Linked DNA regions of Homo sapiens: regions 1, 2 and 4 are each linked to region 3. Evidence: fine-mapped expression QTL. A gene starts in region 3. Each other region holds a variant in brackets. All regions are shown on one strand. Distances are from middle to middle.

What was found.
Region 1: its variant is fine-mapped to the expression of CD200 in lung (GTEx, PIP 0.99).
Region 2: its variant is fine-mapped to the expression of CD200 in neutrophils (BLUEPRINT, PIP 0.95).
Region 4: its variant is fine-mapped to the expression of CD200 in skeletal muscle (GTEx, PIP above 0.99).

The regions. Positions count from the first base shown.
Region 1 is chr3:112,370,422-112,378,530 of GRCh38, forward strand. LOC105374041 (a long non-coding RNA gene) reads right to left here. Exons shown (of 4, transcript XR_924334.3): 4 at 5,420-5,679. Among named protein-coding and RNA genes, the nearest start is that of CD200, 41 kb to the left of the region's middle. The variant G/A (reference allele first, on the strand shown) is at 4,145.
Region 2 is chr3:112,416,421-112,424,529 of GRCh38, forward strand. No RefSeq gene overlaps it. Among named protein-coding and RNA genes, the nearest start is that of BTLA, 79 kb to the right of the region's middle. RefSeq lists enhancers at 354-1,207, 1,208-2,061, 2,062-2,915, 6,332-7,184. The variant G/A (reference allele first, on the strand shown) is at 3,325.
Region 3 is chr3:112,328,616-112,336,720 of GRCh38, forward strand. CD200 (CD200 molecule) reads left to right here and starts at 4,541. Exons shown (of 6, transcript NM_005944.7): 1 at 4,541-4,609. The coding sequence starts at 4,598. LOC105374042 (a long non-coding RNA gene) reads left to right here. Exons shown (of 5, transcript NR_147411.1): 4 at 731-771; 5 at 3,571-4,139. RefSeq lists enhancers at 4,208-5,165, 5,166-6,122, 6,619-7,378.
Region 4 is chr3:112,357,843-112,365,936 of GRCh38, forward strand. CD200 (CD200 molecule) reads left to right here. Exons shown (of 6, transcript NM_005944.7): 6 at 3,701-4,970. The coding sequence ends at 3,708. Among named protein-coding and RNA genes, the nearest start is that of CD200, 29 kb to the left of the region's middle. RefSeq lists an enhancer at 920-989. The variant G/A (reference allele first, on the strand shown) is at 4,669.

The DNA of each region.
Region 1 (8,109 bases), 42 kb after region 3:
GAGCACATCTCCAATATTAAGTAATGTGTGACTATAAATGACTAATTTTCCTTCTTGCCTTGATGGTCAAGAAGCCAACGTCCGATTAAGATGCTTCTTGCTGATTATTAAAAATAATACATGCTCATTATAAAAAATTGTTAAGTACAGAAGAATAAAAATAAAGGAAGTAGAGACATAAAAAATATTAGTCCATTACACCACCATCCAGAAAAGCCACCATTAATTTGTTTTAAGAGCCAAATATGGTACTCAGTCAATGGAATTTATTTACCATTATGGTTGGTACATGATTGCTCACCTTTTCTTGGTTCCAATATTCCCAGGTGACTACTTTTTAAGTATATATATTTTGAAACTGCTTCGAGTTACTTTGGTGAAAATAAGGGGCAATCAAAATTAATCCTTAAATGAACAAATATAGTGGAAAATATGAGGCAAGCATTTCCAAGTCTGGGTTTCCTGACATAATATCTACCCAACTATGTGATTATGAGGATTCATCAGATGAGTCCCTGGTTACACATAGAAAACTGTAAAGTGCTATAAAATAATAATAATTAAAACAGCTAACATTATTGATCACTTTACTATTTTACCAGATGCAGTGTTTATTGCTGTTCATACTGTGTCAATTAATATCCATGACATCTCTATAAAAAGGTACCCTTATTTCATTTACAAAGAAACAGCAATAACAAACCCTAGATGCTCGGGAAGGCTAAGTAATTTCTTCAGTTATAAAGCTAGATATTACTAGATGAAAAGAATTTTGATGTGTTAGAAATTTTTGAAGTGATTTTAATTAAAACCTCTTTGCGAATGTCTCCAGGAAGTAATACCTGAAGTCCAGCCTTTAGTCATTAAACAGTCCACTTCACTAGTTTGTAAGGTAATGAAAGAGTAGATTGAGGTCATGTTTGGGGTTAGTAGTATAGCTACGTAGAAATATCATTCCTCTATTAGAAGAAACAAATAAAAGTGAGAAGGACACCTAACTGACATATTCAAAAGTTTGATGGTGAGCAATGAAGCACAGAGAATAAATGAAGAATCCACTTCAGAGAACTGAAGAAGGAGGGAATGGAGTGAAAAGAGAACTGCTTCTATCCTGAGATAGACTCAGGAGGTAAGAACTACTGGCTTAATCACATGGTTGAGCATTCATTCCAACTAATATTTATTGAGCATCAATTATGAGAAAGGTATTCTGCTTGGCTCTATTGATATAAAATAAATAAGACAAGATGCTTTCTCTAGAGATGCTGTGGGAAGTCGTCATATAAACTGTGACAATGTTGGACTACAGGATGACAAATATTCCAGGCAGAGAGATCAGCATATGCAGAGGCAGGAGGTGTGGAACACCAAGTGAGGCTAAGGAAGGGAAGCATTAGGCTGGACGTTAGGGTGGGCAGCAGAGAAAGGAACATGCAATGTACTGGAAACATAGGCTGGGTTCACACCACAGAAGGCTGTTCCAATATAGGAAGTGTGCCTTTGCATTTTGACCCTGACACTAAAAGGATGTGCGATCTAATGTTAGATGAATTCAATTGAATTGGTGAATATTTCCCTCAGTCAGATATCTGACTCCGTAGACTCAGGTTTATTCTAAAGACAGAAATTTGATATATTTCATTCTGGTCAATGGCAGGCTATATCAAAGGAATAAACAAGGAAATTTCTTGGTTTTGCCATTGTTTCATAGCACAAAGGGGACAGAGGAATTGGGTGATATATTCAGTTTCTGTAATTTTTGTTTTATTTTATTTTTTGTTTATTTTATTTTTTGTTATATATTTATTTATTTTTATTTTATTATATTTTATACTCAGGGGTACATATGCATGTTTGATACACAGATATATTATGTACTATTGGGGATTGGACTTCTAGTGTACCCACTATCCAAATAGTGGATTTCCTGTTATTTTTTTCCACATTGAATCGTATATGGGCCCCCATCAGATAATAGTAAAATCATTGAGCTAAGAGGCCTCAGAACTATCATGTCTGACCCCTATATTTTACAGATGAAGAAATACATTTTACTCAAGATTACACACACAGATAATGATGCAACTTTGGTTTTGGCTGAAAGGTCTTCATGGGTGGTTTCATTCAGAGCTGTCAGGAAAGGAAGCAAAAATTCTGAAAGAGTATGAGGTGGAATATTGAATTTCATTGCTTCATAAATCAGTCTAGATTGTTGTGTTCCTTATTCAGCTGTTCATGGGAATTCCCACTGAGGCAGTTGAAATAGTTGAGAGACAGGTGACTATGCAACAGGACTACATACACCGAAAGAATGGTCAGTTGCCCATACAACTTAATTTAATCCTGAGGACCAGTATCTTCAGGCCTTTCTCAAGCCTAGGTTTATATATACTAATTCTGTTTGATGATATACTGTCATTGGGAACGCCCGACTTTATGCCTGGGTGGATCAATCACACAGTTCATAATTATGGGCAAAAAGTAACTTGGTATCCCAATGATCAAGGACTTCCAGGGCTCAATTGTAAGCCAAAAGCTGTTTCTCAAAAGGAAATAATTTCGTTTTTCTGAAAATGTGTATGGCTTCACTCCAAAACCGAGCTTTGAACTGTAATTCTTTTTTTCTTTTCTTTTCTTTCTTTTTTTTTTTTTTTGATGGAGTCTTGCTCTGTTTCCCAGGCTGGAGTGTAGTGGCACAATCTTGGCTCACCTCAACCTCCACCTCCCGGGTTCAAGCAATTCTCCTACCTCAGCCTCCCAAGTAACTGGGATTACGGGTGCCCACCAACACACCCAGGTAATTTTTTTTTTTTTTTTGGTAGAGACAGGGTTTCACCATGTTGGCCAGGCTGGTCTCAAACTCTTGACCTCAGGTGATCCGCCCACCTCGGCCTCCCAAAGTGCTGGGAATACAGGCGTGAGCCACCACACCAGCCAAATTGTAATTCTTCTGTTGTGACTTGCCCCAGGCTCCTTGCAGCATCCTATTTGACAGTTTGAGCACAATCACATCTACCCATGCACCCTCTTTCATGGGATCCATAGATCGTCTCCCTGTCTCTGCTCTGTTCCTTCTCTCTCCCCACACGTGTGCTGATTCACTTTACCCAAAAGCTTGAGATTTTAGCATTTTGTAAAATAAGAATAAGTTACTATTCTTTTTCCCTCGCCACATCCTTTTCCTGAGGCAGTGAGCAAAAAGACCCCACCTGTTATAACGCACAAAAGGGAAATGGTAATGAATAGGAAGTAAAAATAGACGCTAACATTGTAATATTATTTTGGCACATGCCTGGAACATTGTAGAGCTTCAGTAACATCAGCCATTTTTTCCTTAATATGAACAAGAGGAAATCTAACAGCTTCTTCAACCATTGAAAAAGCAGTTCTATGAAAGAGAAAATAGATGTGTTCATTGGAGGTGGTAGTGGGTTGAATTGTATCCCCCCAAATATAGGTCTACATCCTAATCCCCAGAACCTATGAATATGATATTATTTCATAAGTGAGTCTGTGCAGATATAATTTAAGAGTCTAGACATGAGATCATTCTGGATTATCTGGGCATGCCCTAAATCCAGTAAAAAGTGTCCTTATACGAGACATACAGAGGACAGGAGAAGGCAATGTGACCACAGAAGCAAAAATTAGAGTGATGTGGCCACACGCTGAGGAACATCTGGAGCCATCAAAAGCTGGAGGAGGTAAGAACAGACTGCCCCTAGAGCCTTTGGATGGAATGTAGTTCTGCAAACACCTTGCTTTTAGAACTGTGAGAGAATAAATTTCTATCATTTTCAGCCACCATATTTGTGGTCATTTGTTATGGCAGCCATAGGAAACTAACACAAAGATCCAGAGAGCAGGACCAGAACCAAAACAGAAAAAGTGAAAGATAAACTTTCCTATTATTGAATCTGCTCAAGAGTGTGAGAGACTGAGTTATGAAATAGTTGGCTTCAGTAATTGGAGTTGGGTTTCAGTGGTTCAATGGTCAAAAGGGAGAGAGGCTGGTGACAGGGCGAGATCTTATCTCTTAAAAAAAGGGAGGAAGAGAGTTTATTGGGTGGAACTGGAAATTTTTATAAACTCATGCTCTTATTTATTCAGATTTACATATTCCCGACCATAGTTTTTTGGAAGC[G/A]CATCTCAGGAATTCCCAGATTTTACTCATGCTGTTGCCCATAACCTACGGTGTGGTTAAGAATAATACAATTGGTCCAAACAGGAAGATTAGTTTCCAGGGAAGGAATAAGTCACTGTTGATTATGCCAGGAAAATAGGCTGGAATCATCAGGCAGAGCTTCGCATCTGTACAGCTATCTCCCTGCAGCTGATTTATCTAATGCTTTCTATGATTGCAGACGAACAGACTTTCCGATGGACAAATAAAGAAGCTGCCTTATTTATATTAATATAACCTCTTTCTTTGAACCTCTAGCCTGCCTGGGACACAAAATCACATAGTTTCAAATGACATTAAAGTTAGCTAAGCAATTTTTCTTGCCATTGAGAGAGTAGAAAATTAATACTTTGAATCCAGTTAGGTTACCCTGTTAGATGACTGTTTGGAATCCACAGGTAGGAGTTCTTAACCTGGGCTCAGGGGCATACATAAGGGGACAACTCCACGGTCCCCTTGAAATTCTAAGCAATTTTTTGCTTTCTAGAAGGACTCTAGTGACCTCCATATCACTAAGTTTAATGATTTTTCTTTACCTCTTCTGTACATGTCTCACATTAGACTCTTTCTTGAAATTCATTGTCATCTGTAATATGATGTGCCCTTGATTTTCTCATCTTTCCAGCCCAACCTCCTGTACTTAATTTTTAAATTTTGCAATTCTCGAAAACTTGGATAGAGGCTGTCTTGTTTGCTCATAGTGTACTCTTTCCCTGTGTGATCTCATCCATGCCATGTCTTCAGTTATGATCTATACACTCACAAGTCCAAAATTACTACTTCTAACTCCTTGGAGCTCAGATATATGTATCCAGCTGTCTACAAAACATCTCCACTGGCTGACTTACAGGCAACTCAAACTGAACAGGTCCAAAGCTGAACTCCTGGTCTTTCCCAGTCCCATAACTGGTCCTCCTCCAGTTTTCTCTATTACAGTGAAACAGGAGAGTTCCCTGATCCCCCTCGAAGGACATATGATGGGTGTGGCTCGCCTGTTCAGTCACCAGCACTCCTCAAACCCCTTAGGGGAGGGGGAGCACACAGACAGGCAGGTGAAGGAGCCTAAGTGGAGTGTGTTACAATGTGCCCTTTTAGCCTTGCCATCCACGAATGGCTTGGGTGTTAATCAGCTCAGTGGACTCTCTGCCTTTCTGCAAGGGCAGAGGGGCAGTTCAACAGCTTTCTGTGTCCTGAGCTCTTGCCCAGCATCTTGGAAAAATCAGGTCACACACGGGCTTGAAGGATGAATGAGAGGTTTTATTGAGTGGTAGAGGTGGCTCTCAGTGGGATGGATGGGGAACAAGAAGCAGGGAATGGAGTGGGAAGAAGATCTTCCCTGGATTTTGGCCATCTTGTGGCTGAACCCTTCTCTGACCACCCCAGCTGGAAATCTCTCAGTGTTCAGACATTCCTCTTCTTTTCTCTTTCTCTATTGCACCATTTTGCAATCCATCTGCTTGTCTCCTCATCTTCTCATCTGCTTCTGGAGCCTGGGGCTTATATGAATACAGGATAGAGGGCATGGTGGGCCAAAAGGCAACTTCTTCACATGAAAACAGAAATGCCTGTCCCCATTTAGGACCACAGGACTTCAGGCTTGAGATAGGGGCCTTTGCCAGGGAACCACCCTCTTCTACCTAGTGTTTCCCTGTTTCCTGTCCATATCAACAGGGGATGGTGTCATCATCCATTTGGGCACAGGGTTCACTAGAGGGACAGGACTAATAGGATAGATGTATATATGAAGGGGAGTTTATTAACAAGTATTGACTCATGCGATCACAAGTTGAAGTCCCACAGTAGGCTGTCTGCAAGCTGAGGAGCAGGGAAGTCAGTCCAAGTCCAAAAACCTCAAAAGTAGGGAAGCTGACAGTGCAGCCTTCAGTCTGTGGCCAAAGGCCCAAGAGCCCTTGACAAACCACCGGTATAAGTCTCACAGTCCAAAAGCTTTAGAACTTGGTGTCTGATATTCAAGGGCAGGAAGCATCCAGCACGGGAGAAAGATAAAGACCGGAAGACTCAGCAAGTCGGCTCCTCCCACCTTCTTCTGCCTGCTTTATTCTAGTCTTTCTGGCAGCTGATTAGATTGCACCCACTCAGATTGAGGGTGGTCTGCCTCTCTCAGCCCACTGATTCAAATTTTAATCTCCTTTGGCAGCACCCTCACAAACACATCCAGGAACAGTACTTTGCACTTTTCAATTCCATCAAGTTGACACTCAATATTAACCATCATACACACAAGCCAGAAATCTGGCAGGAATGCATAATACTTCCCCATTTGTTTCCATTTGATGAAATAGGACTTTGATCAAAGCCTTATTACTGTAACATCCTAAATATAAAATATACATCTCTGCATCTCTACTGCTACTGCCTTTATTCTAGACATTATCATTGCTTGTCTGAAATATTGCCAATCCATTCTTTACAACACACCCAAGTAATCTTTCTAAATTCTGATAATGATGTTACGTAACTCTGATTCATATTCTCCAATGGCTTCCACTGTTCTTAAGATAGCTAAGATCTGTAACAGGGTCAACAATCTGGCCTCTAGCCACTTTATCAGCTTCATTTGATACTACTTCCTCTGACTCTGTGCAATTCACCCATGATGACTGTGTCAGTTATCTAATGCCATGACTGTGTTATAAACCACCACCAAATCTCTGGGGCATATCACCACCATGTATCACTCATGTATCTAGGATTCTACTGGGGATTTGGGGATGAGAGGTTGGTCACAGAAAGCAAATTATCTCTACTTCATGTTTCTGCCCTCCTCCTGCTTTTTGAGCAACTTGGCAGAACTATGTTGACATCAATTTCTTTTGGAATTGTCAACACAAAAAAGATTTTACAGAATCAAATTTTAGAAAATAACTGCAAAATAAAACAAATTTTTTAAGGAGAGAGGAAGGAGATGATGCATTTGCTATCTCTTTATGAGCCAGATACTGTGCTATGAACTCAACTTATATGGCTTTATCTTTGCAATGAATCTACAATATTGTACCACTATTCACATTTTACAGGGGAGGAAACTAAAGGTCAGTAGGATTAAATAAATGCAGTTCTCAAATTTCACAGTTTGACTTTGATATAACCCACATTTTCAGTTTTCCTTTACTTGTTCTTTGTTATGCTTTTCAATCTCATGTTGAAATTTGATCCTTAATGTTGGAGGTGGGGCCGAATGGGAGGTGTTTCGGTCATGGGGGCAGATCCCTCGTGAATAGATTAATGTCCTCCCTTGGGGGTGAGTGAATTCTCACTATATTAGTTTCTGAGAGAGCTAGTTGTTAAAATGAGCCTGGAATCTGCCCCCTTCTCTTGCTTCCTCTGTCGCTATGTGATCTCTGCACACATCATCACCCCTTCACTTTCTGTCATGAGTGGAGGCAGCCTAAGGCCCTCACCACATGTGGGTGCCCAATCATGAATTTTCCAGCAATCAGAATTGTGAGCCAAATAAACCTTTTTTCCTTCCTAAACTACCCAACTTCAGGCATTCCTTTATAGCAACACAAAATGAACTAAGATATTCTTTACCATATTTTAAAATGTGGTAGTAAAATTAGACATGATTAAGAGACCACAGTCTTAGCAGGATATTCCAAGAATGGACACCTTTGCTTGAACTCCACTGAGGCCCAAGGCCACTCTACTGGAACATATGCATTTACTTCTTTTCTTTGTCTCTATGGTACACTTTTCTTTTCTACCTTCTCTTCTCCTTTTCTCTCTTTTTTTAATGTCCAGACTCCACTTTATATCACAGGTCTCCCAGACATTGCCGAGGAGGCTATAGTCCATTAAGTACCTGTCTTCCAAACTGTCAGAAATGCTGAGAATTCTCTACTGGGCTTAATGAAAGAAAAACAGCACAGGTTTCTAAGTCTGAGGAATGCAAGATAGAATCT
Region 2 (8,109 bases), 88 kb after region 3:
ACAGAAGACTTCTGTGACCATTTGTGTGGGATTCTTTTCCCCACACACCAAGCAGCAGACATCAGCTGTTAATTCCGTTCGACGCTACCCAAAGATAGTGTCATATCCCCCAAGTTGAGGGCTCAGTCCCCATGCCCTTCCCCCACCACACCAGTCTGGGCCTCTGTAACTTCTGACCAACCAGCTTCAAGTTGGGGTTCGTTCCCATGACCCTCTCTTTGAGTTCAATTAATTTGCTGAAGTGGCTCCGAAAATTCAAGGAAACACTTACTTACATTTACTGGTTTACTATAAAGGATATTGCAAAGAATAAAAATAAAGAGACATGTGGGATGAGGTGTAGGGGAAGGGGTGTGGAGCTTCCATGCCATCCCTAGGAACACCACCCTGCAGGTACCTCCATGTGTTCAGGTATCCAAGAACTCTCTGAACCATGTGCCCTTAGATTTTCATGATGTCAGCATTCCTTCCCCCAGGGTATAGGGTGGGACTCCCGTCATGGGAGGGCCGTAAGACCCACAATCAGAAAGTCAAGCTAAGATTAGAGTCTTGCTTTGGGTCAAGTGAAAGGAGGGCAGAAGAAGGTTAGAGGCCCACCCCTGAGGCCTAACATACCCAACATTGTAACAAAAGATTGTAACAAGGGCTTTGGGAGTTATGAGCCAGAATCCATCCATGAAAACCAATACACTTCATAACACCATGTGGGTACACACCCAGCAGCGGGATTCTTGCCATTCAGGTGACAGGTGACTTCCTATGTCCCCACAGAGGCCTTCCCTGACCACTCCATCTATAGGAACTACTGGTCACTCTCTGTTTCATCACTGAATGTATTGATTCATTGTCTCAATTTCACTACTGAATTTTATTTCTTCATCATTTATTTATCTATTTATTCCTTTCTGTTGTCTCCATGTCTGCCTCATAAGTGAGCCATGAAAGGGGAAACTAACTACCTTGTTCATTACTATATCCTCAGCACCTAGAACAATGCTTGGGACATAGTTGTCACTCAGGTAGTATTTGTTATATGAGTGAATGAATGAATTAATTAATTCTCTTTCATATTAATTGTAGTAGGAAGAAATTGTCAGAGTAGGCAGATAGCTAGACATAAGCAGCAAGAGGAGGGGAGCCACTGAGGAAAAGGGAAGTATGGAAAATCTCACACCCCAGGGACCACCCAAAACATGTAGGCTGGATATAAGCAAAGAGATGGGGAAATACTTATGTGGGAAGAATCGCCCCCTTAAGACACCCAGTAATCACCCACTCTGCAATTAACCTGTCGGAATGTAGCTAGCTACATGCTAATAAAGAGGGAAAGAGGGTGAAGGAGAAATTCCTAAGAGATATGCAGGCATAAAAAGTACAGATTTAACTGCCATACAGCCTTCCTGGGGTGATGGTAATGAGCAATGTAGCCATTAGGTAGAATTTGTGTCCAACACAAGGTCCACACATGCACGCCAACTAATAGACAGAATCCCACAAATCTGAGGCAGGAACTAGGCAGGGAAAAGGCAAGGACTTAAGGCAGCAGCAGGAAAAACTAGATGAAGGAAAAAGGTGGAGACTTAACACAGAGATGAGAACTTCAAGAAAAAATCCGTCATAAAAACCCAATGCAGAACTCTTGAGGCTACTGCTGGCTCATTCTCTGTTAGTAGCCCACTGTGCCTCATCTTTTGGAGTGTACTGTCTGTCTAAATAAACTCTGTGCTCTAATTTTGCTTCAATAAATTCTCTTTTTGGGCTAAGTGGTCTCTTGGTAGGATTCTTTCTTACAAGTAAGCCTAAGAACAGAGGACTCTGCTCTTCCCAGTAACAAAATCACATTAATTATTTCCATGAACTTGTCACCCAGGAGTATCTGGCTTCCCATCCCTGACACCTTTTAATCTCTCAAAAAACATTTGTCTGGGGTTATTCTACTCTTTTAATACTCCTATTAAACTCTACTATTAAAAAAACCAAACTTATTCATTTCATGCGCGTCCGTGTGAAGAGACCACCAAACAGGCTTTGTGTGAGCAACGTGGCTGTTTATTTCACCTGGGTGCAGGCGGGCTGAGTCCGAAAAGAGAGTCAGCGAAGGGAGATAAGGGTGGGGCCGTTTTATAGGATTTGGGTAGGTAAAGGAAAATTACAGTCAAAGAGGGTTTGTTCTCTGGCAGGCAGGAGTGGGGGTTGCAAGGTGCTCAGTGGGGGTGATTTTTGAGCCAGGATGAGCCAGGAAAAGGACTTTCACAAGGTAATGTCATCACTTAAAGCAAGGACCGGCCATTTACACTTCTTTTGTGGTGGAAGGTCATCAGTTAAGGTGGGGCAGAGCATATTCACTTCTTTTGTGATTCTTCAGTTACTTCAGGCCATCTGGGCATATACGTGCAAGTCACAGGGGATGCGATGGCTTGGCTTGGGCTCAGAGGCCTGACATTCCTGCCGTCTTATATTAATAAGAAAAATAAAACAAAATAGTGTTGAAGTGTTGGGGTGGCAAAAATTTTTGGGGGGTGATATGGAGAGAGAATGGGCGATGTTTCTCAGGGCTGCTTCGAGCGGGATTAGGGGCGGCGTGGGAACCTAGAGTGGGAGAGATTAAAATTTTAGTTTCCTGACTTGGGACATGTTGAATAAAGCTAATTTGCCAGTCCTGGGTGGGGGCAAATCCTCGAGCTTGATGTGTAAGGAAGGGAGGGGGCCTGAATAATCCCTGAGGAATAGTAGAACAGCAGATGGAACACTGAGAAATTATTTCCTTGAGGATAGATTTCCACGATGGAAAGGAAATGAGAGGTTCTGAGAGGCAGGCTAGTGGCTTGTACTATAGCATAGCCTGCCTTTGCTGGTGTGTGGCGATTAGGCCTGGTGGAACCACCATCAATAAATCAAGCGTGATCGGGGTGAGGAACAGGAAAGAAGGAAATATGGGGAAATGGGGTGAATGTCAGGTGGATCAGAGAGATAGTCATGGGGGTCAGGTGTGGTATCAGGAATAATGTGGGAGGCCAGATTGAAGTCTGGGCCAGGAACAACGGTAATTGTGGGAGACTCAACAAGGAGTGAGTACAGCTGAAGGAGCCGGGAAGCAGAAAGTATATGTGTCAGGTATGAGGAAGAAAATAGATTTTGGAAGTTATGAGAACTGTAGAGAGTGAGTTGAGCATAGTTTGTGATTTTGAGGGCCTCTAAAAGTATTAAAGCAGCGGCAGCCGCTGCACGCAGACATGAGGGCTAGGCTAAAACAGTAAGGTCAAGTTGTTTGGACAGAAAGGCTACAGAGTGTGGTCCTGGCTCTTGTGTAAGAATTCTGACCAC[G/A]CTAACCATGCCTAGGAAGGAAAGGAGTTGTTGTTTTGTAGAAGGTGCTGGGGTTTGAGAGATCAGTCGGACACGATTGGCAGGGAGAGCACGTATGTTTTTATGAGAATTATGCCGAGATAGGTAACAGATGAGGAAGAAATTTGGGCTTGATTGAAGTAATGGGGGCTGTCTGTGAAGCTTTGCGGCAGTACAGCCTAGGTAATTTGCTGAGCTTGATGGGTGTCAGGGTCAGTCCAAGTGAAAGCGAAGAGAGGCTGGGATTAAAGGTGCAAAGGAATAGTAAAGAAAGCATGTTTGAGATCTAGAACAGAATAATGGGTTGTAGAGGCAGGTATTGAGGATAGGAGAGTATATGGGTTTGGCAGCATGGGGTGGATAGGCAAAACAATTTGGTTGATAAGGCGCAGATCCTGAACTAACTTGTAAGGGTTGTCTGGTTTTAGGACAGGTAAAATGGGGGAATTGTAAGGAGAGTTTATAGGCTTTAAAAGGCCATACTGTAGCAGGCGAGTGATAACAGGCTTTAATCTTTTTAAAGCGTGCTGCGGGATGGGATATTGGCGTTGAGTGGGGTAAGGGTGATTAGGTTTTAATGAGATGGTAAGGGGTGCATGATTGGTCGCCAAGGAGGGAGTAGAGGTATCTTATACTTGTGGGTTAAGGTGGGGGGATAGAAGAGGAGGACGCAAAGGAGGCTTTGGATTGGGAAGAAGGGCGGCAATGAGATATAGCTGTAGTCCAGGATAGTCAGGGAAGCAGATAATTTAGTTAAAGTGTCTCAGCCTAATAAGGGAACTGGGCAGGTGGGGATAACTAAAAAGGAGTGCTTAAAAGAGTATTGTCTAAGTTGGCACCAGAGTTGGGGAGTTTTAAGAGGTTTAGAAGCCTGGCCGTCAATACCCACAACAGTTATGGAGGCAAGGGAAACAGGCCCTTGAAAAGAAGGTAATGGGGAGTGAGTAGCCTCCGTATTGATTAAGAAGGGGACGGGCTTACCTTCCACTGTGAGAGTTACCCGAAGCTCGGCATCCGTGATGGTCTAGGGGGCTCACGAGGCGATCGGGCAGTGTCAGTCTTCAGCCACTAAGCCGAGAAGATCTGGGAAGGAGTCAGTCAGAGAGCCTTGGGCCAGAGTTCCAGGGCCTCTGGGAGTGGCTGCCAGGTGAGTTGAACAGTCCGATTTTCAGTGGGGTCCCACACAGATGGGACGCGGCTTAGGAGGAATCCTGGGCTGCGGGCATTCCTTGGCCCAGTGGCCAGATTTCCGGCACGTGTAGCAAGCTCCTGGGGGAGGAGGTTCTGGAGGAACGCCTGGCCACTGCGGTTCAGGTGTTTGGAAGTTCTTGTGTGCTGGAGATGTGGCTGGGGTTTGTCTCACAGTGGAGGCAAGGAACATTGCAACTTTTTTCTATTATTGTACGCCTTGAAGGCGAGGTTAATTAAATCTTGTTGTGGGGTTTGAGGGCCGGAATTTAATTTTTGGAGTTTTAGTGTCAGGAGCAGATTGGGTAATAAAATGTATTTTGAGAATAAGACGGTCTTTTGCCTTTTAGGGTCTAGGACTGTAAAGTGTCTCAGGGTTGCTGCCAAACAAGTCATGAACTGGGCTGGATTTTTATATTTGATGAAAAAGAGCCTAAACGCTATCTGATTTGGGATAAAGAAAAAGGAGCATTAATCTTGACTATGCCTTTGGCTCCAGCCACCTTTTTAAGAGTAAATTGCTGGGCAGGTGGGGGAGGGCTAGTCACGGAACGAAACTGTAAGTCAGACCAGGTGTGAGGAGGGGAGGTGATAAAAAGATTATAGGGTGGAGGAGCAGAGGCTGAGGAAGAATTGAGACCTAGCTCAGCCTGGCGAGGAGCAGGCTGGGGAGGAAGGGAGAGGTCAGATGGGTCTGTAGAAAAGGAAGATTAGAAAGACTCAGCAACACTTGGGGTTGGTACTGAGCGGACAGGCGGGAGGGAAAGAAGGAAGATTTGGGACGAGTTGCACTGGGCACAGAGACTAGGATGGGACTGATGTGTAAAAGAATGCCTGGACGTCAGGCACCTCAGACCATTTGCCTATTTTACGACAAGAATTATTTAGATCTTGCAGGGTGGAAAAATTCAAAGTGCCATTTTCTGGCTATTTGGAACTACTGTCGAGTTTGTACTGGGGTCAAGTGGCATTGCAGAAGAAAATAAGGCATTTAGGTTTTAGGTCAGGTATGAGTTGAAGAGGTTTTAAGTTTTTGAGAACACAGGCCAAGGGAGTAGAAGGAGGAATGGAGGGTGGAAGTTTGCCCATAGTGAAGGAAGGAAGCCTAGAGAAAAGAGAGTAGAGAAATGGAGGGAAGGGGTTCGGGGGTTCTTACCTTCCAGAAAAGTGGGAAAAGGGGTTGGAGCACAGAGATAAGAGGTCAGGGCACAGAAATAAGGGATGGGGCGCAGAGATATGAGGTTGGGGTGTGGAAATAAGGGATTGGGGCACAGAGATAAGAGGTTGGGGTGCAGAAATAAGGGATTGGAGCACAGAGATAAGAGGTTGGGGTGCGGAAATAAGCGATTGGGGGGTTCTTGCCCCCTAGGAAAGCAGGACTTGCCGCTAAGGGTGAAGGAGAAGGGGTTGAGGGGTACTTGCCCCTGCCCCAGGAAAGCAGAGAAGGGGTAGAGACAAGGAGAGAAGGGGTTGAGGTACGTGCCCCTTCCCCAGAAAAGCGGGACTTGCCGTTAAGGGTGAAGGACCAAGGCAGGCGTCCCTGCGTGTTCTGACACCCTTGAAACGTGGGTGTATAATCAGAGAGGCATCCCTGCAATGATTAAACACCAAGGGAAGGCTGCCTTCCCAGTCTGTGACCGGCGCCGGAGTTTTGGGTCCACGGATAAAACGTGTCTCTTTTGTCTCTACCAGAAAATGAAAGGAATTGAAATTAAGAGAAGGGAGAGATTGAAGTGTAGCGCCAAGATTGAAAGGAGAAAGAGGTTGAGGGATAGTGAGGGAAGTTGGAGAAGAGAGTAAAAAGAGGCCGCTTACCGGATTTGAAATTGGTGAGATGTTTCTTGGGCTGGTCGATCTCAGGACCTGAGGTCGTAGGTGGATCTTTCTCACGGAGCAAAGAGCAGGAGGACGGGGGATTGATCTCCCAAGGGAGGTCCCCCGATCCGAGTCACGGCACCAAATTTCATGCGCGTCTGTGTGAAGAGACCACCAAACAGGCTTTGTGTGAGCAACATGGCTGTTTATTTCACCTGGGTGCAGGTGGGCTGAGTCCGAAAAGAGAGTCAGCGAAGGGAGATAGGGGTGGGGCCGTTTTATAGGATTTGGGTAGGTAAAGGAAAATTACAGTCAAAGAGGGTTTGTTCTCTGGTGGGCAGGAGTGGGGAGTCGCAAGGTGCTCAGTGGGGGTGCTTTTTGAGCCAGGATGAGCCAGGGAAAGGACTTTCACAAGGTAATGTCATCACTTAAGGCAAGGACCGGCCATTTACACTTCTTTTGTGGTGGAATGTCATCAGTTAAGGTGGGGCAGGGCATATTCACTTCTTTTGTGATTCTTCAGTTACTTCAGGCCATCTGGGCATATACGTGCAAGTCACAGGGGATGCGATGGCTTGGCTTGGGCTCAGAGGCCTGACAATTCACATATATAGCATTGATGATTCTAAAAGCCTTATTTGTTTATCTTTCACATTGATATGTAATTGTTCTGAAATTTATTTTTGTGAGGAAGAAGTTGATATGTGCTTTTTCCATGTGAATATCCAATGGTCCCATCCATTTCTCACTGCACCGCTATATCATATTTTTCATAAATCAGATGAATCTGCTTCTGAACTCTCTATTCTCTACCATTGGTAATTTTAATCTATATTTGAGCCACACTGTCTTAACTACTAAATATATATAAGAGTATAATTAACTATGGTTTTTAACAGATCTTTATGTTTAGTACAAGTCCTCTAGTTTTTTTTCTTCTTCTTCCTCAGGCTTGCCTTGCCCATTTCTAAACTTTTACATTTTCATATAAATTTCAGATTAATGTTATCCATTTCTGAAAAACAAAAACTCCTGCCAGTATCTGATTGAGATTGATTTAGTAGTTTAAATTAAAACTGTATGACAAAATATTTTGTAACCATTAAAATTATACACACAATGAATTTAGGAAAACTCAAGAAAAACATTTTTAGTAATATTAATAATAGCAACTAATATTATCCTAAGCATCATACATGAATAAATTTATTGAATTGTCATGATAACTATTTCAGAAATGTATTACCCTTACCATTTCCTAGTTGAAGAAATGACAGCTCAGATATATGATTTAGATTATGCAGTGTCACACAGTGAGTGACAGAGCTGAAAAATAAATCCTAGTCTGTACTCATGAAAAAGTCAAACTTTTAGTCACCTAGATTTTTAAAAAGCGTATTGAATGGAATTCTTCCTAAAATAAATTATAAACCTGTTTTGCCTTTTTGCAAACCTAAAGAATACAATCATATATTTTCATTTCCATTTCTGGTCATTATTATGAATATTAGTGATTTGCTTAAACCACAATACAGTGTTATCCTAGGGCTCTATTATCATACCTAGGATTATTTTCTGTTGCATTAAATTGTCTGAAAATAATGCAATCTTTCTTTTTTTAGCTTCTCTTTTGGACTTTTCTAACTTAAGTATGTTAACTTAACTCTTTCCACTTGTTTCTTGCTGTGTGTTTTTAAGTTGATTTAATAAACCATGTAATTCAAGCATTTTAATCTGGTCCATGAGGCTTTCTGGTATTTCTGG
Region 3 (8,105 bases):
ACTCCTGACCTCAAATGATCCTCCTGCCTCGGCCTCCCAAAGTGCTGGAATTACAGGGGTGAGCCACCGCACCCAGCCAGAAATTTTTTATATCTTAGATCCTTTACATACTAGATATAGATTACTTCTCCCTGTTTGGCATCACTCTATTACATTTTTCAGTTATACTGTTAGGGGAACAGAAGTATTTAATGGAAAACCAAAAGTCCACTTTTTGTGGATAAAAAGTAGATGGATTTAACAATGTTAAGTCAAACTATAAGTTGTTAATAAGTTTGAGTTTGGGGCATTGATGTCTTTATAGTGGAATTTCCTTCAGCCATAAATATATTATCCATTTATTCAAGTCTTTCTAAATGTCTTTTAGGAAGGCTTTACAATTTTCTCAATGTAGGTGTAATTTTTGCTAGGTTAATTCTTTGGTACTTTTAATTTATTCACTATAATTAATGATATTTTAAAAAATTTCTAGCTGGTTATTATTAGTGGTTTAGGAACATTTTTGGATTTTTTAAGTTAACCAATATTTGGAAACTGTGCTAAACTCTGTATTTAAGTTTTTCTGTTGATTTTGATTGTTTTTCATGAAGTTGATTCTCTCTCTTACAACTAATGACAGTTTTGCTTCTTTCTTTCCAATCGACACCTCTTTTTATATTTAATACCTGCAATAACAGTTATCTTTTTCTTGTTTCCGATTTAAAAGACCATGTCTAAAATTTCCTTACAGTTGAATATGACATTTACTGCAGTTTGATCACTAAGCATAAGGTTAGGAAATATTTTCTTATTCTTATCTCCTTTGCTTTTATGATAAATATGTTGTTGAACTTAAGAAAAAATTTATTGGTACTTGTTGAGATAATCATGAATTTTTCATAGCAATTTACTAATATAATAAATTATACTGACAGTTTTCTAATGTTAAGCCATTTTGGAAATTGTTCTGCTTTATATTTATAAGTAAAAGAGGACTATAATTTTATTTTCTTGGATTATCCTTTCCTGGCTTTAAAATTAAAATAACACTAGCCTCAAAGAAAGATCTTAGTAATTTTATAATTCTCCCTTTTGAACATGAATAAGATAGATCTATTCCTCAACAATCCTCTAGGTCTGTTATTTATTTATTTATTTTGCAAAACAAGTCTTTGATTTTGATTTACTTGCTTACTAATTTATTGGCCTATTTAATTTTTAAATTTTTATGGCCAATTTGCCACTTTCAGAAATTTATTCATTTTGTGTAAGTTTTCATATTACTGTTCACAATATTGTTTTGTTATTTTTGCTATTTGTTGCATCAGTATTAATTCTCCCTTTTCATTCTATATTGTTACTCTGTATTACAGTAATAATTTTCTGAGTATTACAGAAATAATTTTCTGAGTATTACATGCCACCCGTTTGATCAATTAATCTCTAAAAAAATTATATTTATTCTATTTGTGTTCGTTTTTATTGATTTCTGCCTTTAGTTTTATTATTTTTTTTCTTCTCATTTTGTTGAGTTCCTTGTTTGCTTCTTTTGCTCAATATTGACATCTGATATAGTTAAGGTGATATATTAATTCTGAATGCTCCTTTAAATCTGTCCAATAATTTTAAATGTCATTTTTTTCTTTTTCCTGCAGACCTTTCTTTAAAAAAAATTATGTAAGCAAATTTCTTCTTTTTCAAAGGGTTTTTAATACAATGTTTATGCTTCATTATGGCTGGGAGTTTTTCCCCTTTTGTTCACTCTTCTGTGTCCCAAGTCTCTTTTAACCTAAAAATGTTGTTTTTAAGCTATTTTTTTTTTTGAAATAGTGTTTCACTGCATCACCCAGGCTAGAGTGCAGTGTCTCCATCATGGCTCACTTCAGCCTCAACCTCCCGAGCTTAAGCAATCCTCCCATCTCAGCCTCCTGATTAGCTGGGACTACAGACATGTGCCACCATGTTCAGGTAATTTATTTTTATTTTTTGGTAGAGACAGGGGTCTCACTATGTTGCCCAGTATGATCTTGAACTCCTGGCCTCAATCATTATGAAACTGGTTGCTTAACTATATAATTTGAATCTGGATTTTAAAATAATAAATGTAAGATTTTATTTTTAAAAAATTAGAAAATAAGATTATGAGAGGTGAGGAGAATTATGCTAAGGTATACGTGTTGGGAAATTTAAGAAATTGACTTAAAAAAATAAATATATGCATTGTCCTTAGTAAGTTAGGAGAAAACAGCAGAATAATAAAATATAACTCTTAATGTAGCAAGATAATATTTAGCTTAATGAAAGATAAGACAGAAGAAAATATACTAAAATAAAATATAAAAAAATTAAAAGTCCTATTATATCAGTAATTACAACATACAAATAGGTTAAGGCCGGGTGCAGTGGCTCACAACTGTAATCCCAGTAGTTTGGGAGGCCAAGGTGGGAGAATTTTTTTTCCAAGTGTGCAGTTAATATTTCTCTAATAGAGGAAGGTTAAAAATAAAGTGATAGGAAAATATATGGGAAAAATAAATGTAATAGAATGATGTACATATGCTTGTGAAAAGACAGGTATAAGAATGTTTATAGCACCACTATGAAAAATGCTTCCAATTTGAAAAACAAAGAAATGTTAATTAATAGAAGAATAGATAAATAAATTGTAATAGACAGTATTTACAGAATAGGATACTATACATCAGTGAGAATGAATAAGCCACACTACAGGCAATAACATGGATGGATTTTTAAAATCTACTGTTGAGTAAAAAACCCAGAAACAAGTGAAGACATATGCTACGATGCCATTCATATAAAATTCAAAATCAGGTGAGCCTAGTCTATGGTGTTAGAAGTAGGAGAATAGGGGCCGGGCGCGGTGGCTCACGCCTGTAATTCCCACAACTTTGGGAGGCTGAGACGGGCGAATCATGAAGTCAGGAGATCGAGACCATCCTGGCTAAACGGTGAAACCCCGTCTCTACTAAAAATACAAAAAAAATTAGCCGGGCGTGGTGGCGGGCGCCTGTAGTCCCAGCTACTTCGGAGGCTGAGGCAGGAGAATGGCGTGAACCCAGGAGGCAGAGCTTGCAGTGAGCCGAGATCGCGCCACTGCACTCCAGCCTGGACGACAGAGCGAGACTCCGCCCCCGTCTCCCACCGCCCCCCCCCCAAAAAAAGAAGTGGGAGAATAGGTCAGGTGCAGTGGTTCATGCCTGTAATCCCACTGCTTTGGGAGGCAAAGGTAGAAGGAGCATTTGAGGCTAGGAATTTCAGGCCAGCCTGGGCAACACAAGACCCCGTGTCTGGAAAAAAAAAAAAAGCTGGACATAGTGGCTGCACAACTATCATTCTAGCTACTCTAGAGGCTGAGGTGAGAGGATCCCTTGAGCCCAGGAGTGAGTTATGATCGCACCACTGCATTCCAGCTTGGACAACAGAGCGAGACTTTGTCTGTAAAAAGAAGCAAAAACAAAACCCCAAAGCTTTGTCCCAGCTCCTTATGAGAGGGTGGTAGTAGTAAAACACAAAAGCCTTCAGGAGGTGAACACTTGATGATTTCTTTGTCCTTTTTTTTTTTTTTTTAAGAGCCAAGAACTCTGGAACAAGAAGAAGAAGACGAAGGAGGAGGAGGAGGGGGAGGGGGAGGAGGAGAAGGAGAAGGAGGAGAAGGAGAAGGAGAAGGAGACGGAGAAGGAGGAAGAGGAGGAGGAGGGCCGGGCGCAGTGGCTCACGCCTGTAATCCCAGCATTTTGGGAGGCCGAGGCGGGCGGATCACGAGGTCAAGAGACCGAGACCATCCTGGCTAACATGGTGAAACCCCGTCTCTACTAAAAATACAAAAAATTAGCCGGGCATGGTGGCGGGCGTCTGTAGTCCCAGCTACTCGGGAGGCTGAGGCAGGAGAATGGCGGGAACCCGGGAGGCGGAGCTTGTAGTGAGCCAAGATAGCGCCACTGCACTCCAGCCTGGACCACAGAGCGAGACTCCGTCTCAAGAAGAAGAAGAAGGAGAAGAAGGAGAAGGAGAAGGGAAAAAAGAATCCTCATCATTAATGCAAGTGGAAGGAAACTCTTCACCAAAGAATTGATCACATCATGAAAGGTGAAATCATTACGGAATTGCTTAAATATATAATTTGAATCTGGATTTAAAAATAATAAATGTAAGTTTTTTCTTTAAAAAAAAAAAAAAGTCCATTGGTTAAATTCAGCTTGAATCCTTTGCCACTACATCAAGAGCTAACAGGTCAACAACTGATCTCCACAACCTCCCACCTCATTTCCTTTCTCAGTCCAGGTAGCAGGAAAATGGAAAAAAAAAAATGATTTTTTTTTTCCAAACACTTTGTCAGTTTCCCCAGCGGTCACCTTTGAAAAGGGAAAAATGTCTGAAAATAGACAAAGCTGAATATAAACATCATTTAATTCCCCCCACACAGACAGCCTCCGCTCCTGTGAGGGCGTGGGGAAAACGGAGTGGGAGAAGGGGGCTAGCGAGGAGGAAGAGGCGGGAGGTGCGGCAGGGGCACAGGTGACGCTCCTCCCGCCTGCCTAGCAGAGCTCCAGGCGCACATCCGCAGTCAGCCACCTCGCGCGCGCCTCCAGGAGCAAGGATGGAGAGGCTGGTGAGCGGGGCCGGGGCTTGGGAAGGAGGGCGCAGGGCAGGCGATGTTGAGCCGGTGGCCCTGGGGCGGGCGGCGAGTGGAAGGCGCGGAGCTTCGGCTCTTGCCACAATCTGGTCCGGGGACTAGATCAGCGGTGTTGATGGCAGCGCTTTTCTCTAAGCGCTTTCTCTTGCTGAGAAACGGATTTTGCCTTCCAAAGGGTGGTTTACAGGCAGCTGCTGGCGTCCAGATTCTCCATTCCAATTGCCTGAAAAAAAGATGCACCAGGCCGGGGCTCCGGGGGCTCTTGATCCGCGCTGACGAAGCTGGCGCATCCTCCGGGCAGGCTCGGCTCGGCTCACTGGCTCCAGCTCCCAAAACTGGGGAGGCACAGCCTATTTTAAACTGCCCCCAAAAGGGAAAGAGAAATGCTGTATTGGTTCCATATTGGCACCAAAAGCTGCGGCGGAGATACAGATTTCCAGGCTCGCTTTCTCCGGGAGAGCTCCTGCGTCTCCTCTTTGTTATGCAGCCCCTTTCTCCCTCCTAGCCCTTGCCTGGGGGAAGCCATGAAGGATCAGTTAAAGCTGAAGCTACACTTGAGAGAGCTGAAATGCTCTGTGATCATAATGCTTTGAAGGGTTAACCCCGGGTATCTAGAGAAACAGACATTTTGTTTATTCGGAACCAGCTTACAAGACAAAAAACGGAGAAGGTTTTCATATATCCCATTGGTATATGAAATCCAAATACAATGGTATTGGTATAAGAATCCAAATACAGTGAATGCCTCAAGATAATTTTTTCATGTATGGTTTGTTGGCAAGACCACATAGCCAATGATTTCACTGTCTTTCTTAACAAAGGAGAATGGTGGTCTGTGAGCTACGGTCTACTGCAAGCTAGATGCTGTTAATCTTCTTTGTAACTATCCTTCTAAAAATGAATTATTACCTCGTTTTACACATAAACAGGCGGAAAGGCTGATATTTCCAAGTCCTTGTGACTACATGTGGGGTAATGTGGATTTGGACATAGAAACTTGCTGAGGAAGAGGCATGAATAGGGGCAATATAGCTACCAGGTGGGCAGCTGTCTGGTAAGACCCAGGTTTTTGTGAACCCTGGACTGCATGGCAAGGGTTATAAGTGGGCTTCTTTGTTTTCAGGACTGTAGTTCCCCCTATATGATTTGATCGATTAATTTTTTTAGCTACCTAACACGTATTGGCATTTACTATAACCTAGGCTCTATACTAAGTGCTTTAATTGCCTAATTCTCATAATAACTATGTGAGATAAGAGCAACATTTATTTAGTGCTTATTTCTACTGGCAGTATTCTAGGAGCTTTATATACTACTTCATTTAGTCTTTTTAACCATTAGATTGGTACTATTACTTTTCCGGAGTCTCAGAGAGGTAAAATGATTTCTTTTGCTCACAAATCTAGTATTTGTTTTAGCCCCGGTCACCTCCCTGTAAACATATAAATACTGTTGTTTTCAGATTGGTCGTATTTTCAGTTATTCTGCACAGACTCGAGGAAAAAAAAAACCTGTAAAATAAAAATACGTATCTATTTAAGAGTAAGGCTTTCCTTCTGATTTCCTTTGCCTCAATCACTGTGTTTTGTTTCTTAACATTGCTGGCTCCCAGTCCACAATATATGGTTTGGTATGTATCTGCTTTCTCTCTTGTCCTAAAACACAGATTTTCTCTATGAGAGCTTGTCCATTCTGCATTCTTCATCATGGCCTCTGGTAGAGCCTGGATTTCCACGTCAGAGAAGCCTAATGGTTTAAAAAATATCACATAGAATTGGAATGCCAGTATCTGTCTCCACAATTGCCTTAGCTGAAAATAAAACAAAATGTGTTGGGTGGGCACTGGCAATGGAGCCTGAGGAAATATTTGGCCTGATTTTTTCTGACTTTCCTAGATAATTAGATAGGATGGAACAGTCTCAGTAATACTGAGAAAATTATCGAGTTATATATTTTTTTTCACTTCAAAACCAAAGCCTTTGTGAGTATAATACCCAGCAGTGGATGGGCAGGGTGAGCAGATCTTTGTAGGCTGTATGTATTCAGGCAGCTGAACCATCTTGGGTTTCTCAAAGAGCAGTGACTATGTTATTAGTCTTAGACCTATGAAGACAGGAAGAGAAGTCACAAGGAAGGGATAGCATGCTTATGGTATGCTTGGGTATCGAATAATAAAATATATCTGCAAAGAATAATTTGTCCTAATGGCACCTTCAGATGATATAATCTTGAATTCTCTGTAGCCTTAGAGATGTAAGGAAAAAGCAACTTACATCACAAAGATCAGTATTACTGTGTACTATGATGCCACTGCATGGGGTCCAGGATGAGAGTCTAAGTGATTGGTTCTCTCTAGCTGAAGACAAGAAGACACTCAGGTATGTGGCAGCACTTGGGATAGGCCACAGGGCGGCGAGACATCATTCCTTCCAGGACATCTATCCTGAAAGATCCATCAGGAATACTGTGATGGAGATAGTGATGGAGACTCCTTGTCTCTGGCAGTTAGAGTGAATGCTGAAGAAGAGCCCTTTTCCAGCAGGCCAGTCTCTAACATGATCTTGGGTCTTCACCCAGACCATGACAGCTCTGGTGCTCAACACACACAACCACCTCCAGGGTACAAGTTGGCCCCAAGAGAGCTGAGACAATATTGGCTCTAATTTTTATCATCTCATTGATCTCAAACCACAGACTCTGACCAGGACAATTGGGGGCCCTCTCCTTACAGCTACACTCCTAGGAAAGACCACCATCAATGATTACCAGGTAATTTTCTACCCCTACCTATGAAGGGACTTGGTTAGTAACTTCTCTTGCTAGAGGAAAAATGAAGCTTATTATATAAGATTAATGTTTGTGAAACACCTGTTATTTGGAATTGGTTTGGTACTTCCTCTTGAAATTTCCCTCATTAAGTTTAGGTCGTGGCTGTTTCATAAGGAAAGAAAAGGGCATGTATTGACTGGAATTAAAATTAACAAATCCATTGAGTAGGAGGATATTAAAATTGAGTGGCTCCCATTGGACAGGAAAAGGAAGAGAAATCCTTGTGGCAGGTAAAGGAGGAGAGATTTAGATCCTTGAGAACTCCATTCCCGACCCGCTGCTCCTGAGCCCACAGGAAGAAGGCCATCACAAGACAATAAAAATCCCAGAGAAATTGAAAGGCAAACAGAAAGACCCAGCTTGGAGTGATAAGGAAAATGAATTCCAGCAGGGAAGTCATTGTATCTAAAAGGAATGGCAAAAATAGGGCTTAGTTAAGGCAAACACCGAGAATGAGGGGATGGGATTCCCACAGGTAGAACACCACCCTTTAGCAATGATCCTGACCCTAAAGCAAGGTCATTTAAGTGATTATGGGCCAATATTCTAGAAATAAGCTTCAAATTATAGTAGCAACAGATGGGGCTAAACAGGAGCCGATAAGAACATACAAACAACTTCAGAAAGGGATGCCCGTGATGGG
Region 4 (8,094 bases), 29 kb after region 3:
GTCACAAAAACATCACCAAACTTTTAATAAAGACCAAAACATTTCTAATATTAAACATTGAAATAAATGTGAGTTATGCATACATTTAAGAAACAGTAACAAAAACAAGTGAGATAATTATTCACTCAATGATTTCAGTTCAAGGGTATGGGTGGCCAGAGCCTATGCAGCTCAGGATGCAAGGCAGACACTGACACCAGACAGGACGTCATCCCAGAGCAGGGGGCATTCACACACGCGCACACACACGCACACGCACACACACACAGTTACTCAGACTGGGACCATTTGGACATGCCAATTTACATAACATGCAGTACGTGTTTGGGATGTGGGGGGAACCAGAGTATCCAGAGAAAACCCATGCAGACTTGGGGAGGATGTGCTAACTCCCACACAGTGGTCCTGGATGGGAATCTGTTGTTTTTCTCATCAACATTATAACAACATGTTGTGGAATGAAAGGATGTTGTTGGAGGACCTGCTATATAAGTCATTTCAGTAGCAGTCTTGGGAGAAATTTGTGGGGACCCACTGGGGAGACAGAATCAGAAAATGTGCATTCTAAAAACGTGCGTATACTGAAATGAACTTGTGATGCCTAGATGAACTTGTGATGCCGAAAACTGATTTCCTGCTAGTGCAGTTGTATCTCTTTTTGAAGAAGAGAAACTGTTTTGCTTAGACATTTTTTTTGTAGGAGTATGGGAAGAAAAATTACTCACTGAAGCTAGTGCGAGTCAAGGGTAGAGGGAGGGCAGTTCCTGTAAGGATGTGTATAAATGGATTTCCAGGAAACTAAACTGCCGCATGTCAGGAAGAGCGGCTACCTGAAGGTGCTTGTAGATCCAAAGCTGCCCTAGGTTCCCCATCAGCACTGATTCATGAGTTTTGCATCTAGTTTCTCCTGTCCTTACCACAACTTGGCTGTTCTGTCTTCTCTGCACTAAACAACTTCTTCACTCTCTATTCCATATGTTTTAAACTTATCTTACTATTTTTGTTCCCTCATACCTTGCTTCATAGATTACCCAATCCAACAAGAAACAAAAGAGAGAAAGAAAGAAAAGTGAGAGGAAAGAAAGAGAGAGAAAGAAAGAGAGAAACAAAACGAAAGTATATTCCTGAACCACACAAAAAGACAAAGAATCACATTCTCTACAAGTGTCCTGTGTTTTTGCAAATTAACCGGTACTTCAGGTAGTCCTTAGGTATTCTAGAGTTTAGAAGAATCCTAAAAGGTTTTGCTCTGGCAAGGGCTGTGAGTAAAGCATGGCCTTTGAGGCGATGGAGGGAGAAAGATATATAGAAACTTTATTTTAGAGAAAGGAAAAACTTCTTCAGACCAGATGCAGAATCAAGTAATCAACCATTCAAAGTCAGGCTTAATTTAAGAGCTTTTTTTAAAAAAAACAGACAAACAACAACAACAAAAATGTATACTAGTGATCTTTAAAGGAAACCATGCTATCATTTAGATTATTATTCTGGATTCCAGTCAGTAGTTAGGTCATATAAGAATTATAAATTCTGTTATTGGTAATTGATAGTTCAAAATGCATAGTCTCACCACTCAGGGAAAACAGCACTTAGATTTCAGAAGATAAAACTTTGTAAGTGGGGATGAAAGGAGGGCATGGAGGGTGTTCTTAAATATTTAAATGGATGTTCATGAGACAAAAGGACTAGACCTGGAAGTTATTACATTTAATTCTCATAGCAATTGATAAGGAAAGTATTTCCATCTGATAGGTGATAAAACCAAATTCACAGAAGTTCAATTCATTCATTTTATAAGTATTTATTAATAATTTTTAATATGCTTGGCATTGTAATTAGCACTGGTTATTATACTATAATGAACAAAACAGGACCTTGTCATTTTAATGGAGATGACAGGTTAGGGGGACAGCAGAGAAATGACAAGTGAATCAACAAATAAGGATACTATTAAAACACGAGATTTTAGCACAAGGAAATAATATAGAATAATATAAAATATAGCATGCAATGAAAGAGGATAACTTGAAAAGGATACCAGTTACTTGGATTTTGTTAGGGAAGGCTTCGCTGAGGTGGTGACTTTTAATCAGAGACCTTCAAGGAGAGAATAATCCAGCCATGGAGGAGACAAGGGAAGAGTGGTTTTTAGCAAATTAATTGCAAATGTGAAAGCTCTAAGGCAGAAAAGTCATTAATATTTTACAGGGTGCGGTGGCACATGTCTGTAATCCCAGCACTTTGGGAGGCTGAGGCAGGCAGATCACCTGAGGTCAGGAGTTCAAGACCAGCCTGGCCAACATAGTGAAACCCCATCTCTACTGAAAATATGAAAATTAGCCGGGCATAGTGGCATGTGCCTGTACTCCCAGCTACTCAGGAGGCTGAGGCAGGAGAATCACTTGAACCTAGGAGGTGGAGGTTACAGGGAGCAGAGATTGCGCCACTGCACTCTAGCTTGGTTGACACAGTGAGACTTCATCTAAAAAAAATATATATATATATGTATATATTTTAGAGCAGTGTTACTCCCAATATGGTCTGAGGATGGTTGCCCATCCAAGAAGTGTTCTTTACTAGTCTGAAGTAAAATAAGTACATAACTGAGAAAAAATGCTTACACTCTATGATAAGAATTTGACAGTAATTTTATATCTGTTAAATCTGATAATTTAAAAATGAATTATGTTATTTTATGTCATTTTTCTAGTAATTCGTTTTTACTATTGAAATTGAAAAATATTGAGCCATGTTGGGAGAAGATGGTCTTTCCATGGTCCATTGATATCTGATGTTAGAAATATTGGGCAGGATCTAAAATGTGCAGAACTTTGCAGGTTCTGGTAAACAATTACCTAAGATTACACAGAGAGTGAGAGGTGGTGCCAAGATAAAATTCCAAGTCTTTTACTTCATCGTCTATGTGCCTTGAGAGGTTTCCAGGCTCCCAGTATGTGCCAGAAAGCCACTAGCCCTTGGAAAGGCCTCTACTTCGTGACCATTTCTACCCTGACATCCAGTGAGTTATTATCCATCAGAAACAAAGCTTACAAATAGAATACATTTTGATCATTTGGAATTTTTGAACATATTCCTTTACTTGTAGTCTTAGGTGATTTTCTAAACCATTATTTCCTAGGATTACGTATGCCCTTTTATTTTTGCTTCAGTTTTGTTTTTGTTTTTGGTTGTTGTTGTTTTGTTGTTTTTAGAGATAGTGTCTTGCTATATTGCCTGGGGCTGGAGTGCGGTGGTGAGATCATAGCTCACTGCAGCCCCAATCTCCTGAGCTCAAGTTATCCTCACGCCTCAGCCTCCTGAGTAGCTGGGACTACAGGTGCATGCCACCATGTCCAGCTATTTTTTTTTTTATTTTTATTTTTTGTAGAGACAAGGTCTTACTATGTTGCCCAGACTGGTCTTGAACTTCTGGGCTCAAATGATCCTCCCGCCTCGGCCTCCTAAAACACTGGGCTTACAGCCACAAGCCACTGCATCCAGCCTACTTTTGTTCTTGTAAAGAGTCATAGTCCCCTCACACCATACTGGGTCAGAAATGTCTACTTCTTTATCTTTGCCAATGAATATACACTAGAATAACTCTGTGTTTCTTAATCTCTCTATTATTTATCTTCTTAAAATGTATTATGATAGAATTTACAAGTGTCCAAAGTTAATACCTTGTTTTTCTTTTATCCAGAGCCCTAAATAAGTCACACAGCACCCTGAAAGTGATTCCCTGGTCTACTTGAATTTGACACAAGAGAAAAGCAGGAGGAAAAGGGGCCATTCTCCAAAGGACCTGAAAGAGCAAAAGAGGTGGGAGCGAAAGCCTTAAGGATCCCACGACTTTTTACTGCCATCTGAGCTACTCAGTGTTTGAATCCCAAGAGGAAGTCAGTTTACCTCTCAGGTCTGTTGTAGGACTTGATTTTGTAAAGCAATGCCATGTTATGTGGTTGAAAGGGCACTGGACTTAGTTAGTATCAGGAGCACTGAGCTCACAGACTGACTTGGGCTCCTACTGGTGGGGACCTCTGTTAGTCACTTTACCTCATCCAAAGTATAAAGGAATTGGACCAAATAATTTACCACATAGCTCTAAAACTTAATTTAAAATGTAATTCCAGAAAAAAAAAGGGAATAAGCAAAGGGGGAAGAATTGAAAGAGAGAGAGAAGAAAGAATACAGAGAGCTTACCTTTTGCCTTTCTGTTGATGTTACATCTCTTCTTCCTATGTTCTTAGGTCTATGAGTCTGTTTCCCCATCATTTGGTATCTAGTCCAGTTCCTGCTTACTGCTTTGCTAATAGCTGGCCTTGCTAGAATCCTTGGTTTCACTGCTGTTCTTCATGTGCTTCTATGAGATTTACTCCAACACAAATAGGACTGAATTTATTGTGAAGTAACATTGGCAATCTTAACTTATTCATTTAACTTATTTTTATAGCTAGATAAATATTGTTAGTCTTAGACAATAGCTCACATTTTTTGAGAAGCATGCCCTCCCTGTCCATTTGTCTTATAACATGACCCAGCCCTATTTTACGTCATTCTAAATTCAGCCTCATATAATGAAAATACATTATGAAAACAGATGTTTAGGAGATTTCCTGTATAGCAGTCAGCCAATTCATATGCTTTGTCTCTGCTGGCTTCTTTTTCCAT[G/A]CGTTAACTTTTCCCAATAGCAGAGGAGGCAAATATGAGCATACAATCCCTTTGTTCTAAAGATATTGTTCCAGCTAGTGGAATGATGTTGAATCTTTAATAACCATAATTAGTTGCTTTTTCAGTATCTTCTGCTTTGTCTGTGTCTATCCAGTGGCCTAGGAATTAAAGTGTAAGTTGTTTTCGCTGTTAAATTGGATATTTATATATATATATAGCAAGATTTTCATGTGTTATTTAATTCTGTATTGTTTCTTATATTTGTAGTAAAATATTGAACAATTAAAAGTGTTGACTCCAAATATTTGGCTTATGATATTCTCTTGGGAAATGTGGAAATGAATGATAATCCTTGTCTTTTCCCATCATATGTAAAACCCTCCCCTCCTCTCTATCTTTCCCCTCCTAAAAGATGAGCTGGGCTGGGCGCGGTGGCTCAAGCCTGCAATCCCAGTACTTTGGGAGGCCGAGGCGGGCGGATCTCGAGGTCAGGAGATCGAGACCATCCTGGCTAACACGGTGAAACCCCGTCTCTACTAAAAATACAAAAAATTAGCCGGGCGCCTATAGTCCCAGCTACTCGGGAGGCTGAGGCAGGAGAATGGCGTGAACCCAGGAGGCGGAGCTTGCAGTGAGCCGAGATAGCGCCACTGCACTCCAGCCTGGGCAACAGAGCGAGACTCGGTCTCAAAAAAAAAAAAAAAAAAAAAAAGATAAGCTGGTGTTTCTGACTAATCACAAAAACACAAATCAGATGTCTGGCCGGTGTGAGCTCCTTTGAGTTGGTGCCTATGTCCTTTTGACATGACCCTGTCAGTTCTGCAGCACTTCTTTATATGTGTTCTTTTGATTTTGCTTTTAGATACCAACCTTTGCAGACAGATTAGCTCACATAGTTTTGAATTTAGTGGGAACCAACCCCTTGTATTTTGCTGTATTTCTAGTATCTCTGCTAAATTGGTACTAGATCAGGCAGGATGACTTAATGCAACAGTTCTTAAACATTTTGGTCTTAGGACCCCTTTATGCATTTGAAAACATCATTGAGGATCCCAAAGAGCTTTTTCTGTAATGTGAATTATATCTGTTGATATTTATCATATTTGAAATTAAAACTGATAAAATTTAAATACAAAAATGTGTAACCATATATCCTATTAGCCATCAGAGTGATGCCAACATCAAACATCATATAGCTTCTGGAAGACTTCAGAGCACATTTATTAGAGAATGAGAGTGAAAAAGTCAAATAATTTATTGGTGTTATCATGACAATAATTTTTTGATTATGTGGACCCCCTGAGATGGTCTTAGGGACAATGCTAAAGACTACTGTTTTAAAGTATTGGCAAAGAAGAAAACCACCTTATGGGAAGATTTCATGAGTCTTTCTCAAAGGAACTCCTTGCTAAACATCTATCTTCATGGTACCTAAGCATTTCACCTTTTAACCAGGACTTTAGGCCATTGTATTACTGGGAGCTCCTCCTCAAAATGCAGAGAAAGCTCAAAGACTAATTTTTATCTATTGTTAATAATTCAATTTAAATTGGCTTATTAAATGGCTTTTCAGTTACTTTTCAGGATGTTGAGATACTTGGACTTAGGATAGGTATGTTTTATGGGGAAGACTTGGGAGGTTATAGAGAAATAAAGGGGAGAAGGAAAGGGTAATTGAGAGCATGCCTCTCTGCTGAGAAGGTGGCTCCATGTGGAACACCACAGCCTTGCTTTCTCCTCTATGTCTCCTGCCCTCTCACCCTGGCTGGCTGCTCACCAACCCTTCCATACTTATCCTAAACTTTCAACTATGGGTGCTTTTTTGTATTTGTGAATTAGAAAGAGGTAGCTTGGGCTTTGCATATTTAAGCAGATTGGGAAAGTTGTAAACTTTTGAGTCCCTTAGAATAACTCAGTCATGTATTTCTCTTCTTAGTAAAAATTCAGAAAAATTCCAGAGTAGTGCAAACCTGCTTAGAGAGAGGAGAAAACAGAAGAAGACTGTTGTGTTTAACTGAAACTGAAACTGCAAATGAAGGGGTTTTTTTGTCATTTTATGTTTTCTTTTTGGTTTGTATTCCTCAATCCGTGCCTTGATAACAATTCATAAATCTAGGTTCAAAGAGTACAAAATCCATATTACTACTAGGAATCATAAGGCTTTGATTAAAATAATTTTTTTGAACTTTCTTCTATGGCTATTCTGAGCTCAGAAAGAGTATTTTATTTAATTTTTGTTGTAGAGACAGGGTCTCACTGTGTCACCCAGGCTGGAGTGCAGTGGTGCCATCATAGCTCACTGCAGCCTTGAAATCCTGGGTTCAAGCGATCCTCCTGCCTCATACTCCTGAGTAGCTAGGACTACAGGCACACATCACCATGCCTAGCTAACTTTTTATTTTTTGTTGAGATAAGGTCTCACTATGATGCCCAGGCTTGTCTCAAATTCCTGGCTTCAAGAAATCCTCCTGTCTGGGATTAAAGAGGTGAGTGACTTTGCTCGGCCTTTGCCTTTTAAAATAAAGCTTCTTAAATTATTTCTTCACAGCGGTGATATTTTTATTTTTTGTTTGTTCTCAAAATATTCCAGATTTGATTTCATCCTTCCCTCCACAGTTGCTCAGGCTAATAATTCACTTGCACAAAGTCACATAGAGCAGTGACTCAATCCAAGCAAACCAACATTTACACAGATGTCATAATCATTTGTCTTGTGAGGTCCTGAAGGTAATTAACCCCATTTTTGTAGGTGTGAAAAATCATACTTTTCAGTGACTTCATACTTTTCAGTGACTTTCATACTTTTCAGCGACTTTCTTCCAGTAGCATTGTAAATGTGTTTTTGGCCAAAACTCCAACTCAGAAATCCCAGCTTCCTGTCTAGTGAACTCTCTTTTCTGCCCACCCTGCAGTGATTTATCTCAATCTTACTTGCCAGCGTAACCTATTTGTTCTGTACTTATATTCAGAATCCAGCTCCTACCTCCATTCTTACACCTGACCCAAACCATTATTATTTGTTTCCTAGATCATTGTTATTGCTTTCTAATTAATCTTCATGCTTCCGTGTTCTTCCTCTTTCAGTCTATTCGAAACATAACTGTTCTAAAATATGTCAAGTCAAATCACATAATTCTCCTGCCTAAAATTTCCAAGTGCTTCCCATCTCACCTAGAATACAAGCCAAAGTCTTTACGTGGGCTATAAGGCTCTAGACAATGGGCTCACTGATAATCTCTGAAGTCACCTCCTACTCTCTCTCCTGATCACTAGTCTGCCGGCTATTTCACCAACATTTCAGACATGTTTCCATCTCAGAGCCTTGGCATTTCCTCTTCTCTCTGCCTGGAATGTTCTTTCTGCAGGTACCTGCATGGCTCATATGACTTTTCCCCTGAAAAACACTCCATAGATACCCCAAAGATA